Linked DNA regions of Homo sapiens. The protein of the gene in region 4 purifies or fractionates together with the protein of the main gene of each other region. This does not show direct contact. Each region holds a gene or a part of one and is shown on either strand. Other genes may lie near its edges.

Region 1 (3,645 bases), on a different chromosome or scaffold from region 4:
TCTGAACTGGCAAGCAAATTTTCACCCAGTTAATTGGGTCGAGGAAAAATAAAATAAAATAATTCCCATGATTACACAAATGTTCTTTTATTTATATTAGTCACTGTAACAATCCTATTTATGGATTAATTTCTTTGTACCCCAAACAACTGTTTTCTTATGAAATTTTTAAAGATTTTTGTAACAAAATATAACCTTAAATTCCTAATTTTGAACTGAAAACATCTACTCCATAGCTAGAGTAACTATAAAATTGGGCCATGGCCAGGCACGGTGGCTCACGCCTGTAATCCCAGCACTTTGGGAGACCAAGGCGGGCGGATCACATGAGGTCGGGAGTTCGAGGTCAGCCTGGCCAACGTGGTGAAATTCCATCTCCATTAAAAATACAAAAATCAGCTGGGCATGGTGGCACACGCCTGAGGTCCCAGCTACTCAGGAGGCTGAGGCAGGAGAACTGCTTGAACCTGGGGGGCGGAGGTTGTAGTGAGCCAAGATTGCCCCACTAGACTCCAGTCTGGGCGACAGAGCCAGACCCTGTCTCAAAAAAAAAAAAAAGAAAAAGAAAGGAAAAAAAAATTGGGCCACGTTTGAGAGACAAAGCTAGAGAGTGTAGTCGTACTCCCCAAAACTTTTATATATTTACTCTGTCTTAATAAACTCAAAGGTCCTCAATGTCTTTATGGGAGATAACTGAAGGATTAAAATTAATTCAAATGTAATTAATGTTTTCACAAGACTCCTTATAATTTCCTTACAAATCCTATATATCCTACAAAATTAGGGATGGTAGTAAATTTTTTTTTTTTTTTTTGAGATAGAGTTTCGCACTTGTTGCCCAGGCTGGCGTGCAGTGGCGCGATCTCGGCTCACTGCAACCTCCACCTCCCAGTTTCTCCTGCCTCAGCCTCCCAAGTAGCTGGAGTTACAGGTGCCCACCACCATGCCCAGCTAATTTTTTTTTTTTTTTGTATTTTTAGTAGAGACAGGGTTTCACCATGTTGGCCAGACTTGGTCTCGAACTCCCAACCTCAGGTGATCCACCTGCCTCAACCTCCCAAAGTGCTGGGATTACAGGTATGAGCCACCGCACTCTAAGATAAATTTCTAAAGCACAATTGCTTGGCCCACATTCAGTCTGAGGAATGGCAATCCAACATTCTCAATCCAAGAGAGTCTGACCAGCCATTGGGCACAAGTTCAAATCCTCCAGGAGTACTGGATGTTTTAGATTAGGACATCAGAAAGGACAAAGAAATGATCTGTTCTCAGAAGGAATCAAGATACCCCTGTAGGACACCCCAACATCCCCACCCACAAAAGCTGGTGATTATACGAAGCCCTGAGACAGTCCAGATTTCATTTCTATTGCCCAGGCCAGTAGACTCCTGATCCAGTCTATCATTACCACTCTCCAGGATCAGAAGTTAATCATGTTGTTAAACTTTCCATGATAATGTTCTGGGTTTTTTGTTGTTGTTGTTGTTTTTTGAGGTGGAGTCTCGCTCTGTCACCCAAGGCGGGAGAGGGTCTCAAACTCCTGACCCTCAGGTGATCTGCCCACCTCAGCTTCCCCCAAAGTGCTGTGATTACAGGCGTGAGCCACCATGCCAGGCCCATGATAATGTTTAAAAGCAATGAATAGGCTGGGCACGGTGGCTCACGCCTGTAATCCCAGCACTTTGAGAGGCCCAGGTGGGCAGACCACCTGAGGTCAGGAGTTCGAGACCAGCCTGACCAATATGGTGAAACCCGTCTCTACTAAAAAGATACAAAAATTACCCAGGCGTGGTGGTGAGCACCTGTAATCCCAGCTACTTGGGAGGCTGAGACAGGAGAATTGCTTGAACCTGGGAGGCAGAGGCTGCAGTGAGCCGAGATCGCGCCACTGCACTCCAGCCTGGGCATCAGAGCGAGACTCCACCTCAAAAAAAAAAAAAAAAAAAAAGCAATGAATAATACATGTTTGCCCACTAAAGAACAAGTTCCACGAGGGCAGGGACCCTGTCTACTTGCTCAATACAGAAGTCCCAAGGCCCAGCAACAGACTCGGGATGAGACTGGTTGCCAAGAAATCTTTGCTTAACTCACTGCTACCAAATGACAACTTGTCTCTGTGTTACCAGTACCCAGCACGCATGGTGCCCGGGACTGCATGCACACATCTCAAGCAGTTTCTGAAGACACAGAGGAGAAACACTGCCTTAGTCATTCATGTTTGGTTACAAGATCTACTGAAATACCTGCCTCCAAACAGCAGCAGACTGTCTCTTCAGAGACTTCTGCGGTGCCAAGCCCTGGGGTTTCAAGAAGAAAGCAAAAAATGATTTCCTTTCCTTAACCAAAACACTACATTTTACTTGGGGCGCAGCAGTCTTTACTGCTGCACTCCCATCTCCTCCACCCTTCTTTTCTGGGCAGTTCATTAGCATACGACTCAATGAGGCTAACTTCTTAATCCAGTACATATTAAAAGATCTTGTCATCTTGTCAATAAGGCACTTCCCTCTCTACCTATTTCATATTGCAACCACCAAAGTCCCTACTCCTCTGCACTGTTTTTCAAAAGCACCTGCCACCATTGAACTTGTTCGTCTGTCTCCCATAGCAGAAACAAGGACAAAGACTTCTGTTTTATTCTGCGGGAGGCCCCAGTACCTAGAACTGTGCCCAGTACATAGAAGATGCTCATGAATAAGTAAACAGATGCAAATCACTGAAAGCTACTTTTCGGTAACTGAGTAAACAAGTACTATTTTAATTATTATACTTAAAACCTTTGCACATAAAAGTGCACAGTCATTCTTTCTACCACAAATTAAACAGAAATTATCTCATCTTGTTTTTGAACAGGCTTTTCCAGATAATGCACAGCGCATTTTTAAAAGTCCCAAGGACATGAAATGAACATACATTTCGTTTTTAACAGTTAACAGGGGATACTTGTAAGAAACTTAAGGTTACACAGGAAGTGGTCAAAATCAAAAAGTAAAGATCACAAAGTGATCTTTCGTTGTTTTCATACTATAAAAACACAATGCCTCTGTTACTAAATGCAAAATGTAAAGCTCTGGCAAACAAAGTAAAGCAACCCTGTTCTCTCTTAAGAGGGCAGGGTGGAAAACCAATGACTGCCAGATGAAAACTAATTTATATCACCACAAACTATTTCTTAAAAATTTCATTAGCAGCCAAATACAAAATTATTTACTATCTACCTACTGATAAGGGTTTTCCATTACTATATGCTCAAAGACAAACCTTACAACTATAGTTTCGGGAGGCATAAATTTGCTTACCTCAGGAGGTCCCACAAAAATTCAGCTGAGGCCAGGTAACAGCAGTTTCCTGCAGAGATCAGCTACTTCCTATCACCATAGTGGTCGAAGAATCAAACGAAGTAATATCAGATTTCTACTCTGGAAGCCTAAAACACTTTTCCCTTTAAGCAAAAAAGCAAGCATTCCTTAGCTAGCAATCTCAGGCCAAACTCCCAACAAGCTCATCTCTGCTGTCTTATTCAAATATAAACCATCATGGTTTCAAGCAGTAACAGCACTCGCCTATTTCACACAGCTGACGCCTCTTAGGCCGTCAGGAATTTAAATCACCTTCTTGCCCACAAAGTATTTTTCTTCCAAAACA
Region 2 (3,645 bases), on a different chromosome or scaffold from region 4:
GGGTGAACCTAGATCTACCTGCTGGTTCCACCTTTTGGATCTGGGAGGCATGAATTGGTGTCTCAAGAAGCTGGGGAGAGGCAGGCTCAGGAATGGCTGTAAGGGATTCAGCTGCTCTCACTGCTCCCCATCTTTGGTTCCTTGAGGCCTGGGATTTAGGTTCCAAGGGTGCAGAGCAAGGCTTATGGTCAATGGGAGCTGCGAGGGAGCCAGGGTTCCCAGCGGCTCTCTGCCTCTTGATGCAACTGGGTTGAGTAATAGGCTCAGGGGAAATAGGCTGGTCTGTGGTGACAGGAGATTGGAATTCAGGGGTGGTAGGAACCGGCATAGCTCTTACTGTGGAAGACCTCAGTGTTTTGCTCTGACCACCCTGAGCTATGGCCTCAGGGGTGACGGACTGGTCTGTGGGGGTAAAAGGCTCAAGATCAGAGGCTGCTGGTTCAACTGGTTTGGGAGTCTTGACAGAGGACCTATTTGTCTTTCTCCTAGTGGCCCTAGATGTGAGCTTGGGGGTGACAGGCTGGTCTGTGGAGGTGGTAGGATGGGGCTCAGGGGCTGTGGGGACAACTGGCTCAGGGGTCTTGACAGAGGACCTATTTGTCCTGCACCTAGTGGCCCGAGATGTGGGCTCAGGGGTGACAAGCTGGTTTCTGGAGGTGGAAGGCTGAAGCTCAGGGGCTATAGGGACAATTGATTCAGGGGTCTTGACAGAGGACCTATTTGTCCTGCCCCTAGTGGCCCGAGATGTGGGCTCAGGGGTGACAGGTTGGTCTGTGGAGGTGGAAGGCTGGAGCTCAGGGGCTGCGGGCACAACTGTTTCAGGGGTCTTGACAGAGGACCGATTTTTTCTTCCCCTAGTGGTCCGAGATGTGGGCTCAGAGGTGACAGGCTGGTCTGTGGAGGCGGAAGCCTGTAGCTCAGGGGCTGTGGGGACAACTGTTTCAGGAGTCTTGACAGAGGATCTATCTGTTCTTCCCCTAGTAGCCTGAGACGTAGGCTCAGGGGTAACAGGCTGGTCTGTGGAGGTGGAAGGCTGGAGCTCAGGGGCTGTGGGGACAACTGTTTCAGGGGTCTTCACAGAGGACCTATTTGTCCTGCCCCTGGTGGCCTGAGATGTGGGCTCAGGAGTGACAGGTTGGTCTGTGGAAGTGGAAGGCTCGAGCTTAGGGGCTGTGGGGACAAGTGTTTCAGGGGTCTTGCCAGAGGATCTATTTTTTCTTCCCCTAGTAGCCCGAGATGTGGGCTCAGGGGTGACAGGCTGCTCTGTGGAGGTGGAAGGTGGGAGCTCAGGGGCTATAGGGACAGTTGATTCAGGGTTCTTCACAGAGGACATATTTGTCCTGCTCCTAGTGGTCCGAGATGTGGGCTTAGGGGTGACAGGTTGGTCTGTGGAGGTGGAAATCTGGAGCTCAGGGGCTGTGGGGACAACTGTTTCAGGGGTCTTGACAGAGGACATATTTGTCCTGCTCCTAGTGGTCCGAGATGTGGGCTTGGGGGTGACAGGTCGGTCTGTGGAGGTGGAAGGCCGGAGCTCAGGGGCTGTGGGCACAACTGGTTCAGGGGTCTTGACAGAGGATCTATTTTTTCTTCCCCTAGTAGCCTGATATGTGGGCTCAGAAGTGACAGGCTGGTCTGTGGAGGTGGAAGGCTGGAGCTCAGGGGCTGTGGGGACAACTGGTTCAGGGGTCTTGACAGAGGATCTATTTTTTCTTCCCCTAGTAGCCTGAGAGGTGGGTTCAGAGGTGACAGGTCGGTCGGTGGAGGTGGAAGGCTGGAGCTCAAGGGCTGTGGGCACAACTGTTTCAGGGGTCTTGACAGAGGATCTACTTTTTCTTCCCCTAGTAACCTGAGATGTGGGCTCAGAGGTGACAGGCTGGTCTGTGGAGGTGGAAGGCTGGAGCTCAGGGGCTGTGGGGACAACTGGTTCAGGGGTCTTGACAGAGGACCTATTTGTCCTGCTCCTAGTGGCCTGAGATGTGGGCTTGGGAGTGACTGGCTGGGCTGTGGAGGTGGAAGGGTGGGGCTCAGGGGCAGCAGAGGTAGCTGGAAAGGGTGTCATTCTGGAGGACTTCCGAGTTCTAATTTTAGGCTTTGGGTGGAAAGGCTCCAGCTCTGAGGACAAGGGAGCCTCTGGAGCTTCCTGACTCCCATCTTGCCTGGTCTTACGAACGGTTGGCTTGATAGAAGGTAAAAGGGGAGAAAGAAGGGGCGGAGGTGCAAGATGTTTCTGGCTCTGAGAGTTAAGGGGCTTTTGGGGTGGGGCTGGGGCTTCAGGTACTGTAGGAGGCAGACAAGCATCTGGAGATTCCTGATCGCCCTAGGGAGAAACAGAAGCAAGTGAGGGGGAGGAGGTGGAGAAAAGAGATAGAACTTGGATACTGTTCTTGATACTTGTTTATGGTTAGATAGGCTTACCAGATTTCCACCGGGCGTGGTGGCTCACGGCTATAATCCCAGCACTTTGGGAGGCCGAGGCGGGCGGATCACGAGGTCAGGAGTTCAAGACCAGCCTGGCCAACATAGTGAAACCCCGTCTCTACTAAAAATACAAAAAAAAAGGCCAGGCATGGTGGCTGATGCCTGTAATCCCAGCACTTTGGGAGGCCGAGGCGGGTGGATCACAAGGTCAGGAAACCGAGACCATCCTGGCTAACACGGTGAAACCCCGTCTCTACTAAAAAATACAAAAAATTAGCCGGGCGTGGTGGCGGGCGCCTGTAGTCCCAGCTACTTGGAAGGCTGAGGCAGGAGAATGGCGTGAACTCGGGAGGCGGAGCTTGCAGTGAGCCGAGATGGTGCCACTGCACTCCAGCCTGGGGGACAGAGCAAGACTCTGTCTAAAAAAAAAAAAAAAAAAAAAAAAAATTAGCTAGGTGTGTTGGCAGGCGCCTAGTAGTCCCAGCTACCTGGGAGGCTGAGGGAGGAGAGTCGCTTGAACCCGGGAGGCAGAGGTTGCAGTGAGCCAAGATCGCGCCACTGCACTCCAGCCTGGGTGACAGAGTGAGACTGTCTCAAAAAAAACAAAAAAATACACAAAAATTAGCCGGGTGACATGCGCCTGTAGTCCCAGCTACTTGGGAGGCTGCGGCAGGAAAATTGTTTGAACCCAAGAGACGGAGGTTACAGTAAGCTGAGATCACGCCACTGCACACTCCAGCCTGGGTGACAGAGACAGACTCTGTCTCAAAAAAGAACAAAAACAAAAAATATGCTCACTGGATTTTCCTTTCTGTCTATGATCTCTCCTCCATTAGACTGGGATCTACCTGGGAAGCTACCTTTTTCCCACAGACCTGTCTCCATAATGCTACTATAGTGTTCTCCACACGTGGATGATGGTAAGGAAAAGGATGGCTGGGGCAAAGAAAGAAGAAACACGAAGGGTCTTTCTTTTGAGTCAGGTAGGAGATACAACTTAGGAAACAGATATGGAAAACAACGGGTGCCGAGGATAAAGGAATAGAAGCCAATCAAGGCGTGACAAAAATGGAAGAAAACTGAATAATGAGAAAGGAATAGATTAAAGTGAGGCTAGGTGAAAGAGCATTGGAGAAGATATAGAGATGACTTGTGGAATAGGAGGTAGAAAAAGTAGCTCTCACCCTGGAAACCTTCTCAGCAGCTCTGATCCTGGAAGCCTTCTCA
Region 3 (3,645 bases), on a different chromosome or scaffold from region 4:
TTTATATATTAGGATCAAAAAGCCACATTAAAAGAGCAGAGCAGCATTTTCAGGAAACTAATGTTCTTGCTATTTTATCATTGCTTTTTGTGATTGTGGGTAAAATCACCAGCTCATTAGATTTTTTTCACTTCTGCAAATTGAATGGGTTAACTACATCAGGGTTTCTTAACCCACAGTATATGATGCACTTAAAGCATTTTTTAAAAGCTCTTAAAATTAAATACAAAATCTCATGTGTATGTTTATTTTTCTGGGACAAGAGGATATACAGCATTAATCAAATTCTCAAACACATCAATGACCTGCTCCCAAAAAGTGATTAAGAAAATGACGTCTTTTAATTTTAAAATTGTAGGATTCTTACAAATGTAACTCTAGGCATACTTGTCTTTGGAGGTGTGGCTGCATCATGGAATATTGAGGGCCGCTGTGCCTGGGTATCCCTGGTATTCTGGCAGCATTCTGAGCCAGTCTCATCTGATGGGCTTGAAAAGCTCCACAGTTCATGTTGCCTCTTTGCATTGTTTGCACACTGATCAATCGAGGAGGCTACAAAAAGTAGAAATTGCAATTTATGTAATAATTTTAAAATAAATTTATCTCAATTATAAAATGTAATCATAAAAATAATTCAGTCAAGATAAAAGGGTATAAAGTAAAAAGTATAAATAATTCTTATCGCTAGCCCCAATCCCCAGAGGACTGGTAATGACTAGTTTGTATATCACTCCCTAATTTCCCTTGTCTCTCTCTCTCTCTCTTACCTGTTCCCCCTCTTTTTCTCTATATGTGTGTTTAAAGCGTATCAACATTAACGTATCCCATCCTGGAGTAATAGTTTTGATTGGGATGGCAGTGGAGAGAGCAAAAGACACACAGGTATAGGAAAGATCTGAACAAATGCCTAAGGAACATATCAGATCCTAGGCAGAAACAGTCTGGTCCTTTGGTCCACAAAATTATACGTGGAAAACAAAAAAGATTTGATGTGAAAGGATGAGAACTTACATCCTTTCAGAGTATTAGTGAATTAATTTTGTTTCCCAAGACAATTTACTTACTGCCTTTCTTCACAGCTCCCTTACATCACCATCATAACCATAGCAAATATTTAAACTCTGACTTTTGAACTCTGCTCAGTCTTGCTAGTAACTTTGAAATGTGTAACTTAATTATATAGGAAAAAGTGTAGTGTTGAGGGCTTCATAATTTCTATCAATAATGTAGTAACACGATACTTACCTGTTGTTGTAACATCTGAGGGGCTGCTTGTCTAGGATGCTGTTGTGTTGTTGTTGTTGTAGTTGGTACAGGTGCTGGTGGTTGCTGCATCCTCATCTGTTGCAACTGCTGATGTTTCTGTGCATATACTTGTTGTTGCATGTGCTGGAGTCGAAGCTGTGCTAAGTTAATCTGTCCAGGGGTTTTACTAATGTGGTTTGTCCCTGGAGGAACTTGCCCAACTACAACATTAGGAGTATAACCAGGAGCTGGTTTACTCTCTATTACTAGATTACCTGAAAAATTTAAAAAATGAGAATTTGCATATAATCAACTAAATCATCTACTTTGTTGAGTAATCACCATGTTTTCCTCTTTCCTCTGACAACTATCAGCACCTCAAAGCTCCAACAGTACAGCAGGGAATGGAGTCAGTTTAAAGATGATGATGATGATCAGAAACTTAATACATTCCAAAGCTGAATAAATGACGTTTGGTTATTCAGAAAAATATACTCTCTGTCCTTATTCTTTTTTACTTAGACATACAGAAAATTAAGACAGTAAAAGAGATTATCTATTAGAAGAGGCCTATCTAATCAATCTAAATCAATTCTCCCATGACAAGACTTACTCAAGGATACTCAAGATTGCCAATACTGATTCCATCTGCCTTTGAATTGCCAAAATATGCAAGGCAGAGCATTACAATGTCACAAAATCGTCTTCTGTGGAAATACTGAATGCTTTAAACAACTTATATCCTTAGACGTGATGGTTTTCCTTGCTTTTTATGGAGCCATTGCCTTCTAGGGATAGAAGCCAAATTTTAGGAAGATGTGATTTAAGGCACAGGTTGACAGGCTTTCCCTGTAATGGGCTATAGAGTAAATATTTCATGCTTGGCAGGCCACATAAGATCTGTCTCACAGTCCTTGGTTTTTGTTTGCTTTTACAACCAGTTGAAAATGTAAAAACCATTCTTAGCTACTACGTCACACAAAAACAGCTGGCTGATGTCAGAACTAAGGCTATAGCTAAATTTGAATATAATTTTTTTTTATTATATGCAAAGATTACTTTTTTTTTTTTTTTAAAAAAAAAGGGCAACCAGCCTCTGCTTTTACAATTCCCACTGTTTAGGACTTAACTGTTCTGAAAGTGAGTTTACTCAATCTGTAAATAGCTCTCTAATTGCTAGGAAGTTTGTGTGCATGTGTTTTAACTGAGCTCTCTGTAACTTTCATCTATGGTCTTTAGGTCCATACTACGCTGTAACAAAAGGAAAATCCATTTCTCTTCCATGTGAAAAGAGCTACTCTTATCTTTCAAACATTCCTCAGGACCTAACTACTGGACACATTAGCATCCTAAAAGTCTGTTGCTAATGCACAATTTGGCTTAATTAAACAACTAAAAATCTATGAAATTATTCCAGACAATGAATCATTTGCTAAGATTTCTATATGAAACAGTCAATATAAATTTAAAAGATGGAGGGTCGGGGGACTAGAAACAGCACACATTAAAAAACAATATACAGAGTAGACGCTCAACTTTCTTAAGATGTAATAACAGCCACACAAAACCACAGCTAAAGTGAGTTTCCAATGAATAACAACATATTTTTACATAAAATGTAAAACATTAGTTTTATAAAGTTAAAAATTTTATCTAAATTTGCTTTAAGTATTTTCTCCTTCTAATTCAGTGTTCCAAGTTATATTCATAAAACTCATTATTTCTCACCTAAATTGACTACATTCTTTGCCCAGAAGGTGGGATCACAATGGAAACGTATTGCTCCATTAGCAGCAGGGACAGGATCACACCGTGCTTTCAAAATATGACGCAACTGGAAAGTAATCTTAAAGGGAAAAAAATCCACATTAGTCTCAAAATTAAATATCAATTGGGAAATCATAAGATAAAGACATTAAGAAAAAAAAGCACATATATTCCCACAGTGTCAGCCTCAGATTAGGCAGCATCAACATTTAAATTAGCAATCAAATCAAATATACATACTTGAATTTCTGCCATTTTGGGTAATAAAGTGCATTAAGATACTAGGTATCTTCAAAAGAGTACATACTATATAATTCCACTTATATGAAATTCTAAAAAATGACAGAAATCAGATTAGTGGCTGCCTAGTGGAATGAGGAAACTTTGGGGGGTGGTGGAAGTTTTCTGTATCTTGATGTGGTGGTGGTTACATTTGCCAAAATTAAAATGTATACTTTAAACAGGTGCAATTCACTGAATATATATCTTAATAAAGTCCATTAAAGAAAAATAAAAACAGTATGTGTCTCACCAGTCGCTTGCTGTATAGTAGTGCTGTGCTGCTGCCACTTGCAATTGCCCAATTTGTGAAGTTCATAACATGCTTCACCTGCCGGGAAAGGCCTGTGATGT
Region 4 (5,376 bases):
ACAAATAGACAGCATATCTATCTGACCTTATTTCCCACTATTCCTGAGAACTCACTGCCAGTGTCCTAACTGCCATCTGTTGGAGGTCCCTGTGAAGATTACCCTTCACCTGCAATCTTTTTCAAGATCAGTGATTTTTCTGTTGTTCACGCCTAATTACTGCCTTTAATCACCTTATCCCTTTCTTATTCCTTTTTAATTATACTAAGGACATGGCAAAACAAAATTCCCTAAAAGGATATTATGGTTTTAGGGATGCCATCCAAATTCTCAGTCAGGCACACCATAAATTTATAAGTCATAAGGAGGAGCTATGACCCCCTCAAAAGAAAAAAAGCCAAATAATGATCTGTGGGGAGAAGACACTTGAATTCAAGCAAAAACAGCTGCTCAAATGGTATTACCTAAGCGTTAGAGACATGTGTCATGACCTAAAAAAAGTAAAAGACTAGTATAAGTTTTATACACCATTTCTATGAAACTTGGTATCGAGTATTAATGCTGCATATTCTCCCTATTATCTCTGATCCCCCCCAACAACAGCCACTGTCTTCCTGCCCCAAGAATTACTTACCTTTTATCAGATAAGGATCCAACATCTGTGCCTGTTCAAACTTGAGGACAGAGTTTTTATTGTCTCCAGCTCTGAAGTACAGATCTGCCAAGCTTCCCAATAGGTCCACGTTATCTCGCAATAAGGATTTTTTCTCTAGTGAACTTTAAGATATTTATTAAACATTGAACCTTTAAATCTATTATAAATCCTCTTAGTTGCTGAATCTGGATGATTGGTCATACAGATACTATTTTCTTTTGCATAAATATAAAATTCTTCGTAATAAAAAACTTTAAGCTTATGACTTTAAAAAAAGTTATATAGGACAGGATAGCAAAAACAAAGAATAAAGCAGAAGTCTCTCAGTACCAACAAATAACTCTGTGGTTGCAGTTCTTCAGAACACAACATACGCTACATGGTGTTAAAGGTAATGTCATTCACAAGTGACACCTATTTATTACTCAAGTAAACGACTTTGCATAACACAAGCCCAAGTCTCTTCTTGTCCTTGAACTTTATCTGAATATAAAGAAAATCCCTAGTCCTAAGCAGGCAAGCTAGGTTAGACACTGCAATAAACCAAGCTTCTGGTGAGTGCAAAATGATTTTCTTCCAGGCTGAAGAATGATACACCAAGGCCAGGCATGGTGGCTCACGTCTATAATCCCAGCACTTTGGGAGGCCCACGTGGGAGAATCACTTGAGCCCAGGAATTCAAGACCAGCTTGGGCAACATGGTGAAATCCCATCTCTACAAAAACATACAAAAATTAGCTGGGTGTGGTGGCATGCGCCTGTAGTCCCAGATACTCAGGAGGCTGAGCAGGAGGATGGTTTGAGCCCGGGAGATTGACAGGTCAAGGCTACACTGAGCTGTGACTGCGCCACTGCACTCTAGCCTGGGAGAGAGAGAGAGAGAGAGAGAGACAGAGAGACAGAGAGACAGAGAGAGAGAGAGAGAGAGAGAGAGAGAGACAGAGAGAGAGAGAGAGAGAGAGACAGAGAGACAGAGAGAGAGAGAGAGGCAGAGAGAGAGAGAGACAGAGAGAGAGAGACAGAGAGAGAGAGAGACAGAGAGAGAGAGAGAGAGAGAGAGAGAGAGAGAGAGAGAGAGAGAGAGACCGACCTTGTCTCAAAAAAAAAAAAAAAAATGACACACCAAGGTAGCCTGCTTTGCTTTGCAAGGGTTACTACCTGTGCAGGCACAGAGCTAAACTCAGTCAGATTTCTATTTTTACAGGTCTCCAACAGAGATGATTACATGATTACATTTGGGACCATTCAGTATAAAAGACTAACACATCCCAGAGACTGGCTGCAGCACCAACAGCAAAGCATCTCATTTTTCTTTTTGCTACTTCAGATACATCAGACTTCCAGACAAGCAAAGGGCCTCAAGAACACTGAATTAACTTTGTGGCTCTCACCAGATGGTACTGATTGCTCTTGAGTTGTCACCAGTGTGCACAAAAGCATACGCTTTGATCCACACAGAGAGCCAGTCCAAGTTAGGCACGGTTTGGATCACATTCATTGTCATGGATGCCACCTCTGCCCCTTTTACAGAAAGGGACAACAAGCCTAAACCAACAGAAAGCAGAAGAAAGAAAGTAAGGCACGATATCTCTCTTCCACATGCAAGGAGCAACGGGCTACATCTTCCCTTGGCTAAAAGGCAACTGCTTCCCTATTCTGAGCGATGCATGAGAGAAAAACCATAATTTAGTATTTCTTTTCTTTTTGAGACAGTGTCTTGTTCTGTCCCCCTGGGCTGGAATGCAGTGGCACAATCTCAGCTCACTGCAACCTCTGCCTCCTGGGTTCAAGCGATACTCATGCCCCAGCCTTCCGAGAAGCTGGGACTACAGGCACGCGCCACCATGCCTGGCTAATTTTTGTATTTTTAGTAGAGACGGGGTTGTGCCATGTTGCCCAGGCTGGTCTCGACCTGCTGAGCTCAGGCAATCCACCCACCTCAGCCTCCCAAGGTGCTAGAATTACAGGTGTAAGCCACCATGCCCGGCCAAAAACCATAATTAAGTATTTCTTGATTGAATATGTGACAACAGGAATCCTACTAAATCACTCTCTTCAGGGGAACTTTTAAAAAAAATAAAGTTATTCTAATGTACAGGCAAGATTGAGAACTACTATCTTTGACAGTAAACATGCCATGAAAACAGGCAGGAAATATCTCTACCTAGAATGGCATCAAGGGCTAATGGGCACTGCCTCAGCACCTCCTTATAGCTGGTGACTGAAGGGCGCTCCTGACCAGCCTTCTTGTACAGGTTTGCCAGCATCATGTTTATCTGTACAAACACAAATAACAGATAGCAAAATAAGCGTATATTGCAAAGAAAATCTCTCACCATGAAAAAGTCCTAATTTTCATTACCAGTTATTTACTTTTTACTGGAAAATCTACCCACAACCCTGTGCAAATAAAGGCAGACTGACCCCATTCTTCAAAAGAAAGAAGAAATTGGCCAGGTGCAGTGGCTCACGCCTGTAATCCCAGCACTTTGGGAGGCCGAGGTGGGTGGATCACGAGGTCAGGAGATTGAGACCATCCCGGCTAACACAGTGAAACCCCGTCTCTACTAAAAAATACAAAAAAATTAGCTGGGCGTGGTGGCGGGAGCCTGTAGTCCCAGCTACTCGGGAGGCTGAGGCAGGAGAATGGTGTGAAACCGGGAGGCGGAGCTTGCAGTGAACCGACATCACGCCACTGCACTCCAGCCTGGGCTACAGAGTGAGACTCCATCTTAAAAAAAAAAAAAAAAAAAAAGAAAAGAAAAGAAATTACTACCCTTCCTTTCCCTAGCTCCTGCCTTCCCTAAGAGGAAAGTCACATTACCTTCCCACAAGGCCCAGTAATATCTGAACAAAAGACGCTGCCCTCTGGAAACTGGAATAACATTCATTTAAGAAATGGTAGAGAACGCTAGTTAACTTGATTCTTTCTTGATCTTAAAACAGAAGATGAACTATCTCACATAAGAAAGTGAGAAACTCTTGACATAGCTAGTTAAGAAGGATCAGCTCAGTTTTTCCTAATAAGGAAATGATACAGAAAGACAGATAAAGAAGTATAATACTTGGCTTTTCTTTGACAATTCGACTTGTGGCTAGACTCTAGCCTTTCTAACACTTAAGGCTTTGGCCCGTAGGTACTAACTCACTAAAGTAATGCTACAAAAATCAGCTACACTATTTAAATCCAGTGAGTGCAGACAGCTGCATTTTAGCGTAATTTAAATATGTAACTTTGTAAAGCTAAATTAAAATAATCCTACCTAACATGCAACTGGGAAATGAGAAAATCTAAAAGTTCTGGCCGGGCGCAGTGGCTCATGCCTGTAATCCCAGCACTTTGGGAGGCCGAGGTGGGTGGATTACGAGGTCAGGAGATTGAGACCATCCCGGCTAACACAGTGAAACCCCGTCTCTACTAAAAAATACAAAAAATTAGCTGGGCGTGGTGGCGGGCGCCTGTAGTCCCAGCTACTCAGGAGGCTGAGGAAGGAGAATGACGTGAACCCGGAAGGCAGAGCTTGCAGTGAGCCGAGATCGTGCCACTGCACTCCAGACTGGGAGACAGAGCGAGACTCCGTCTCAAAAAACAACAAAAAAAACCCACAAAAACAAAAAAAAAGCCAGAAAATCTAAAAGTTCCTAAGAATGTAGAAGTTATAGGCAAGTGATAAAAGACCTTCCTAATAGTACACAGATAAACACAATATTCCAATTTAAAATTAGATTTTTTTTTTTGAGACGGAGTTTCACGCTTGTCACCCAGGCTAGAGTGCGATGGCACGATCTCAGCTCACTGCAACCTCTGCCTCCTGGGTTCAAGTGATTCTCCTGCCTCAGCCTCCTGAGTAGCTGGGATTACAGGCACCCGCCACCACGCCCAGCTAATTTTTTTTTTGTATTTTAAGTAGAGATGGTGTTTCACCATGTTGGCCAGGCTGGTCTTGAACTCCTGACCTCAGGTGATCCAACCACCTCGGCCTCCCAAAGTGCTGGGATTACAGGCGTGAGCCACCGTGTCTGGCAAAATTAGTAGATTTTAAACACAACAGTATTTGCTAGATCATTAACCTAAGGAAGCAGTCAATGTGAGGGCACAAAAGAAAAAAGGTCAACCCCCAATCTCTTCGATTTAACTGTGGCTTGGTATGCCAGATATTTATAGAAAGAGTGGCTCTAAAGATAAAGAACATCTGTTCCAATTATAGACCTACATTATATAAAACAATCTAATATAGCATTGATTCACACTAATTCAAACAATGGAATAATGAAATACTAAAAATAAAACTATTTTTTACTTGGCCTCAGATTTTCCATATTAGGCTACTATTTTGAAAATGCAAAGAAAAATACTTAAAAGGAAAACTCCAGGATTGATGTCAATACTTGTAAAGAATAAAAAGTTAAATTTAAGATCCTTTCTTGACTGCTGGTTATATTAACAAACTATGACTGATGGACTATCTTTCTCAACAAATATCAAAATTTCCTTTAAGCTACTTGACTGTCACTTTAAAAGAATGAGTTTTGAGTAATACCTAATGAAAAAGTCAATTATTGGCCGGGCGCAGTGGTTCACACCTCTAATCCTAGCACTTTGGGAGGCCGAGGTGGGTGGATCACGAGGTCAGGAGATCGAGACCAGCCTGGCCAACATGGTGAAACCCCGTCTCTACTAGAATACAAAAAATTAGGCAGGTGCAGCGGTACGCGCCTGTAGTACCAGCTACTCAGGAGGCTGAGACAGGAGAATCGCTTGAACCCAGGAGGTGGAGGTT

What was found. The genes of interacting proteins can lie anywhere in the genome.
Region 1: the proteins of ANAPC7 (region 4) and NAP1L4 fractionate together in Homo sapiens (co-fractionation; one large-scale study listed by BioGRID). This does not show direct contact.
Region 2: the proteins of ANAPC7 (region 4) and MDC1 purify together in Homo sapiens (affinity purification with western blotting; 2 studies listed by BioGRID, with this or other methods). This does not show direct contact.
Region 3: the proteins of ANAPC7 (region 4) and TRIM33 purify together in Homo sapiens (affinity purification with western blotting, with the first as the bait; one study listed by BioGRID). This does not show direct contact.

Annotation. Positions count from the first base shown.
Region 1 is NC_000011.10:2,985,830-2,989,474, forward strand, and holds part of NAP1L4 (nucleosome assembly protein 1-like 4), read right to left. Parts: intron 3,443-3,645; exon of another isoform or gene 3,300-3,442; intron 2,298-3,299; exon of another isoform or gene 2,248-2,297; intron 1-2,247. UniProt on the Homo sapiens protein: Acts as a histone chaperone in nucleosome assembly.
Region 2 is NC_000006.12:30,703,782-30,707,426, forward strand, and holds part of MDC1 (mediator of DNA damage checkpoint protein 1), read right to left. Parts: coding exon 3,603-3,645; intron 2,318-3,602; coding exon 1-2,317. UniProt on the Homo sapiens protein: Histone reader protein required for checkpoint-mediated cell cycle arrest in response to DNA damage within both the S phase and G2/M phases of the cell cycle.
Region 3 is NC_000001.11:114,424,204-114,427,848, forward strand, and holds part of TRIM33 (E3 ubiquitin-protein ligase TRIM33), read right to left. Parts: coding exon 3,545-3,645; intron 3,092-3,544; coding exon 2,974-3,091; intron 1,521-2,973; coding exon 1,246-1,520; intron 553-1,245; coding exon 388-552; coding exon of another isoform or gene 368-387; intron 1-367. UniProt on the Homo sapiens protein: Acts as an E3 ubiquitin-protein ligase. Promotes SMAD4 ubiquitination, nuclear exclusion and degradation via the ubiquitin proteasome pathway. According to PubMed:16751102, does not promote a decrease in the level of endogenous SMAD4.
Region 4 is NC_000012.12:110,385,753-110,391,128, forward strand, and holds part of ANAPC7 (anaphase-promoting complex subunit 7), read right to left. Parts: intron 2,872-5,376; coding exon 2,760-2,871; intron 2,141-2,759; coding exon 1,987-2,140; intron 718-1,986; coding exon 575-717; intron 1-574. UniProt on the Homo sapiens protein: Component of the anaphase promoting complex/cyclosome (APC/C), a cell cycle-regulated E3 ubiquitin ligase that controls progression through mitosis and the G1 phase of the cell cycle.